Linked DNA regions of Homo sapiens. The protein of the gene in region 1 purifies or fractionates together with the protein of each later gene. This does not show direct contact. Each region holds a gene or a part of one and is shown on either strand. Other genes may lie near its edges.

Region 1 (2,314 bases):
TGGAAGCTAATTCCATTGACTTCCTCTGGGAAGCCTCCATTGACACCCGTGAGGGACACAATGCTTCCCTTATGCCTCTACTATGGCATTTATAACTATTATATTCGCTTACACATTTGTCTCCCTGGTAGGTTGAAGATGTCAAATATTTGATCTCTGAATCTCTGGTAACCAGTTTGAAGTTCTAGTTACACAGTAAGTGCTCAATACATCAGATGACCACACAACCCAGTTTGCCTGGGAGAGTCCTGGTTTATGTCTGTTGCCCTGGAGTAATTATAAGTGCTTCTTTCACTCATAAAAGCATCCTAACTTAGATGACCAAATCACCCTATCCATAAATGTTGAATTAACAAATGACTTAAAGAATAGAGAAAGACTTTCACTGTCAGAATCTAGGCAGGAAAAGCCAATGTGTGGATTCTGCGGCCACTGTGCCTCCTTCTCCTCCTCCTTCTGACTCTCCTGGAGACAGAGAAGATGAGTTTGCACACACCAGATGCTCAATAACCTTTATTGCACAAGTAAGTTGAAAAATGTTAGCACGTTCCTACTTCAAGAAAACCTGGGCCGGGTGCAGTGGTTCATGCTTGTAATCCCAGCACTTTGAGAGGCCAAGGCAGGAGGATTGCTTGGGCCCAGGAGTTCAAGACCAGCCTAAGCAACATAGTGAGACCCCTATCTCTACAAAATTTTTTTTAAAAACTAAGAAAGAAAATTAGCCAGGCGTGGTGGCCCCACTTTGGGAGGCTGAGGCTGGAGGATCACTTAAGCCCAGGAGGTTGAAGATGCAGTAAGCAGTGTTTCACGCCACTGGACTCCAGACTGTGTGAGAGAGCAAGACCCCATCTCTAAAAAAATTAATAAAAAAAAATAAAATCTGGATGTAAAATGTTAATTTATAGTACAGATCAATGTGGCAGAGATTATTAAATATTACCTACGTTTACTACTTGGTTAAATCTAGCTGGTAGTGAAATGTAAAGAGCTGGATTTACTACTTATAGGAAATAAAAAATGCAGATTCAATACTCCTAAAATGTCAGTGGTGACACGATTTTTAAAAAATTAAATAGATGCACTGTTTTTAAAAAAACCTCTTCTCGGCCAGGCACGGTGGCTCACAGCTGTAATCCCAGCACTTTGGGAGGCCAAGGCGGGTGGATCACGAGGTCAGGAGATCAAGACCATCCTGGCTAACACAGTGAAACCCCATCTCTACTAAAAATACAAAAAAAAAAATTAGCCAGGCATGGTGGCGGACGCCTGTAGTCCCAGCTACTTGGGAGGCTGAGGCAGGAGAATGGTGTGAACCCGGGAGGTGGAGCTTGCAGTGAGCTGACATCACGCCACTGCACTCCAGCCTGGGCCACAGAACAAGACTCCGTCTCAAAAAAATAAAAATAAAAACAAAAAACCTCTTCTCAGTATGTATGTAGGTACATACATACACCAGTTAGGGTTGCCCTTGTTCTTAAGGAAAGATAATCTCCTTGAGTTTCGTATCATAAATACAAGTTTTATTTAAACTTTTTTGTAATTCAAGTAAAAAAAAAGCTGTTTTTTAACTACTGTTACATAAAAAGTGGAAAGTGAGGCAATCCATCTTTTCGGCAATAATCTTCTCTTCTTATAATAATGCCATCTTCTTTGAAAGTCCAGATAATTCCAGGCCAGGCACGGTGGCTCACGTCTGTAATCATAGCACTTTGGGAGGCTGAGGTGGGCAGATCACAAGGTCAGGAGTTCGAGACCAGCCTGACCAACATGGTGAAACCCCATCTCTACTAAAAATACAAAAATTAGCTGCGTGTGGTGGCGTGTGCCTGTAATCCCAGCTACTCAGGAGGCTGAGGCAGGAGAATTGCTTGAACCTGGGAGGCGGAGGTTGCAGTGAGCTGAGATAGTGCCACTGGATTCCAGCCTGGGTGACAGAGTGAGACTCTGTCTCAAAAAAAAAAAAAAAAAAAAAAGTCCAGATAATTCCTTGTAAATAAGGTTTTTAATAAATTACAAATATGTAATAGGTTTTTATCCATCTTCTTCCTAACTACTCAATGCATTGTTGCATAGCAACAGTTTTTTTCTGCTTCTTCTTTGTTGGAAGTCTGAGAGTCTGAAATCTGCATTGGCTTGGTTGAGCTTGGGAATTTTTCTGGTACCAGGGGTGCAAATATCCATTGTAGAAGTCAGTAGCTGTTAGTGATTTCTTGAGCATCACTGATCGAACACCAATCCAACCATCCTAAAGGGCAAAATACAAATAGTGAATAGGCAGGGGTGGCAAAACTAAAAAGCCAAGTAAATATTAGTT
Region 2 (4,032 bases), on another chromosome or scaffold:
TATTTTGCAGCTCTTTCTCTGCTCTCCCCTGTGTTGCAGGTTTGTAATGTTTGAGCACAATTCCTGGGTGAAATTCGTATTTGCCTCTGTGCGTGTTATTTGTGGCAGAGAACTGTGCCTGGTCAGCAGCTCTAGACCTGGAGCCCGTGGACACTATATGCGGGGCTTCAGTGGAAAGAGAGATCTGCTTAATTTTGTCCCAGGTGAAGGAGTCCAGCGGTTCCTATCCTGGACTACGGGAAGGTTCCCACATCTCTTTGTCCCATTAGTTGAGATGACTTGCAGTAGAAATTGTCCAGTGAGTGTTAAGAACTTATTGAAAGATGTCTTAGTTTTCTAGTTTTGTTGTTAGGCAAAAAGTGAGAATTTTTACTTCCATGTTAAATGTTAAATGAAAATGAATGCTGATTTAATATTTACATTCTTAAATGCTTAGCAAATCAGAATTGACAGTTAGTTTTGAAGCCTTTCCTATAAATCCTGGGATTTTGGAACTGTGAAGTTGGGTTGGTAAAAACTCAAAGTCTTAAAATTCCTAGGTGACAGAGCCATAAATTACAAGCCTAAATAACTAAACTTCTACTTATGAAATTTTAACTCTTTTACTGTGGCCAATAATAAACCATTTTTAAGAAAACTATTGTAGATGGTTTAAACAAATGGAAGGAATATTAAATTCCCGGGACAGGTAGCATCTGAATAAATGCCGTGTTCCCTTATCTGGCTCTTTAAATCGTTTGAAATATCATAGTTAGTCAAACTGTAAAGATTCCACTGTTTCATAGTCGTTTGGGTAATTTAAAGTTACGAGTTAACATTTGTAATATAAATATCACTGATACTTATGCTAAAACATTTATGTTATATGGTGGACAAATGTATCTTTCAACATTGCAGAAATATTACATTGGCACGACAGTTCCAAAATCAAGAGAAAAATGGAAAGATAGTGCAACTATAAATGTTATTTCTCAAGAAAGTTCAGCATGACTATAAAAGATTAAGTAGAGTTTGTTCATGCTTTTCCATCTTACTTTTCTGATTAAAGCAGGCATTTTAATATACTGATTGGAAAAATCTATTTATGTATATATCTCCTTCCAATGCATTACTGATGAAGTTTTCAAAATTATCTTTTTGGGGAGAAAAAAAAAGCTTGGAAAGATTGAGTCTTAATCAGTCAAATTAGTAGCACTTCGTTTTTCCTAAATGTACCTTTAAAATCGAAGTCATCTTTGGAATGTTTTAAAGAGTTAACAGTGTTACTAAAGACAATACCTGCTTTAAATAAGTTATCTTTTCCGATTTCTTCCACTTTGTTTTATTTTTTAGCCCATAATTTCACAATATTCTCACTTTTGACAAGGCTCAATGCAAATTAACAATTTTTAACAAGTGGTAAAGAACTTAGGGCAGACACTGTTAGAGGAAATCAAAGGAAGATGCAGAAATGCAGTCTGAGTTGGATGGAGGAAACGGTGACCTCAAGCCCAGTAACAATGAATTTTATTTGTTATTAGAGAAAATTCATATTTGTGGGATGCTCTGGGCCCAAACAGGACCCCAGGAGTTGCAGCTGGCAGTACTGCCCTGCGTTTGAAGACTACCTCTTTGTATTACAACCTTCTGGAGTTAGGAGTGTTAACTACACCAAGTTTATGAGAAGCTAGAATGAACTTCATTCTCCACCTCCCCTCCCCCAGATTTTCTGCTCCTGTAATGATGGTTGTAACTTTGTTTCACGTCTAGGGAGGACAAAGATAAACAGAAAAGAATGTGAGCCTGTAACCATTTTAGGATTTTTTTGGTGAACATTTATAAAATTAAAACAGTTTTAGAAGCATACAGGGGTAGAATATGCAAATGGTATACCCTTGGCATGTCTCACTTAGCCTACTAACTGATAATATGTTCACAGCATAGGAGTGAAAAATGGAAGAGAAAACCTTCTAAATCCATAGACTATAGAAAAGTCAGCTTGCCTCCATGGGCTCAAGTAGACCTAAGTCATCCCACCATCATAGCCAACCTAATTAAATTTTAATACTTTCAGTCTGGACACCAGATATCCATGAAGGTGTTGTTATAAGTTCAAGTCAGCTCTACTTGATATGAATAGAGGCCATTTGTAGATAGTGATGCAGTGTTTGCCAAATAAGGTTAGCAACCTTTCCGTTTGCATGGAGACTTGTTACTGAATTAAATACTTGTTTCTCTGCATGCTGTTACTTACATAGTTCATTTGCATTTTATTTGCTTAGCTCTAGTTAAATTAGAATGATATATTCCAGCATTAGTTTATCATGCTTGTGTTTTATTTTGTAATAAAAATTCCATATCCAATCATTTGACTGTCACTAACTTGTACTCTTTTTTTCATAATACTTGTAGCAACTCTTCTGACCTCTGGGACTACTGCAACAGTAGCCCTATTGCGAGATGGTATTGAACTGGTTGTAGCCAGTGTTGGGGACAGCCGGGCTATTTTGTGTAGAAAAGGAAAACCCATGAAGCTGACCATTGACCATACTCCAGAAAGAAAAGATGAAAAAGAAAGGTACTACCACCACTGATCCATCATATCATTCTATGTGGATGATGTTTTTAGTTCATAATAGTTTTTAAACTGATGTCATGGTTAAGTTTAACAGTGACTTGGTTTTCTTTTTGTTTTTTTGAGACAGAGTCTCACTCTGTCGCCCAGGCTGGAGTGCAGTGGCGCAATCTTGGCTCACTGCAAGCTCCACCTCCCGGGTTCACACCATTCTCCTGCTTCAGCCTCCTGAGTAGCTGGGACTACAGGCGCCTGCCAACACGCTCGGCTAATTTTTTGTTTTTTAGTAGAGACGGGGTTTCACCGTGTTAGCCAGGATGGTCTCGATCTCCTGACCTCGTGATCTGCCCTCCTTGGCCTCCCAAAGGGTTTTCTACATATCACACCATTGTCATTTAACTTTTAACAGGATCAAGAAATGTGGTGGTTTTGTAGCTTGGAATAGTTTGGGGCAGCCTCACGTAAATGGCAGGCTTGCAATGACAAGAAGTATTGGAGATTTGGACCTTAAGACCAGTGGTGTCATAGCAGAACCTGAAACTAAGAGGATTAAGGTAAGAAAGGACCTGCAAACACTTGATAAACCTGCGGAGAGTGAATGTAGGATTGTCTCTGCTGCACCTTTCTTGGAAGCCTTAACTGAAGCCAAAATGATTTTTAAAAGGGAGTAATTTATGGAAGGATAAAAAAACTTTTCAGGTAAAATAAGATGCTACTATTCTGGCCTAATTTATTGTAGAGGACAAAACAATTCTCTTTTTCCCCCTTTTTAGGTTCTTAGTTGAGACACTTTCTTGAAAATAAAAGTCAGATTAACTACAACAACAACAAACAAACAAGCAGACATTTGCACGTGCTGAACCCATTGTACGGGAAAGGCCTCAGTTAAAAGTATTTCTCTTCCAAGGCAGTGGCTTAGGGGCTTTGCTTAAATTGTATTTAAATAGCCATAGATCCTGCATAGTGACAAGATAAAGAAGAGAACAGTTTCAGTCTTTTAAAAGTCAGGAAAATGTGGAGAGATAGTAAAACCTGTTCCCAGATTTCTCTGGTGCCTGCTGGTTCCTTCTCTGGGCCAATAAACAAGTGCTGTCTCCAGTAAAGAAGGACTGATGTCCTGCCACCAGGCAAGTAGAGGCTGAGGAAGTGTACCCCTGCCTTTTCAGTGACTTGACTTTAGCAATCCTCAATATTTCGGGGAGAAATATTTTGGCTTCCCTCAGTTTGAAGTGTTAGGTTTTTGTTTCACCCCAGCTATGGAATTCTCCTGGTGAAATGGTCCTGCTGTTCTTCCTCACCTGCACCCAATCAGCCAGCATCACCTGCACTCAATCATGCAGCATCACCTGCACCCAGTCATCCAGCATCACCTGCACACAATCAGCATCACCTGCATCCAATCAGCCAGCATCACCTGCACCCAAGCAATCAGCATCACCTGCACCCAGTCAGCCAGCATCACCTGCACCCAATCAGCC

The links.
Region 2: the proteins of MTFMT (region 1) and PPM1K purify together in Homo sapiens (co-immunoprecipitation; one large-scale study listed by IntAct). This does not show direct contact.

What each region holds. Positions count from the first base shown.
Region 1 is NC_000015.10:65,001,012-65,003,325, forward strand, and holds the end of MTFMT (methionyl-tRNA formyltransferase, mitochondrial), read right to left. Parts: intron 2,246-2,314; coding exon 2,051-2,245; 3' UTR 501-2,050; downstream 1-500. UniProt on the Homo sapiens protein: Methionyl-tRNA formyltransferase that formylates methionyl-tRNA in mitochondria and is crucial for translation initiation.
Region 2 is NC_000004.12:88,267,266-88,271,297, reverse strand, and holds part of PPM1K (protein phosphatase Mn(2+)-dependent 1K), read left to right. Parts: intron 1-10; coding exon of another isoform or gene 11-203; intron 204-2,391; coding exon 2,392-2,557; intron 2,558-2,963; coding exon 2,964-3,108; intron 3,109-4,032. UniProt on the Homo sapiens protein: Serine/threonine-protein phosphatase component of macronutrients metabolism.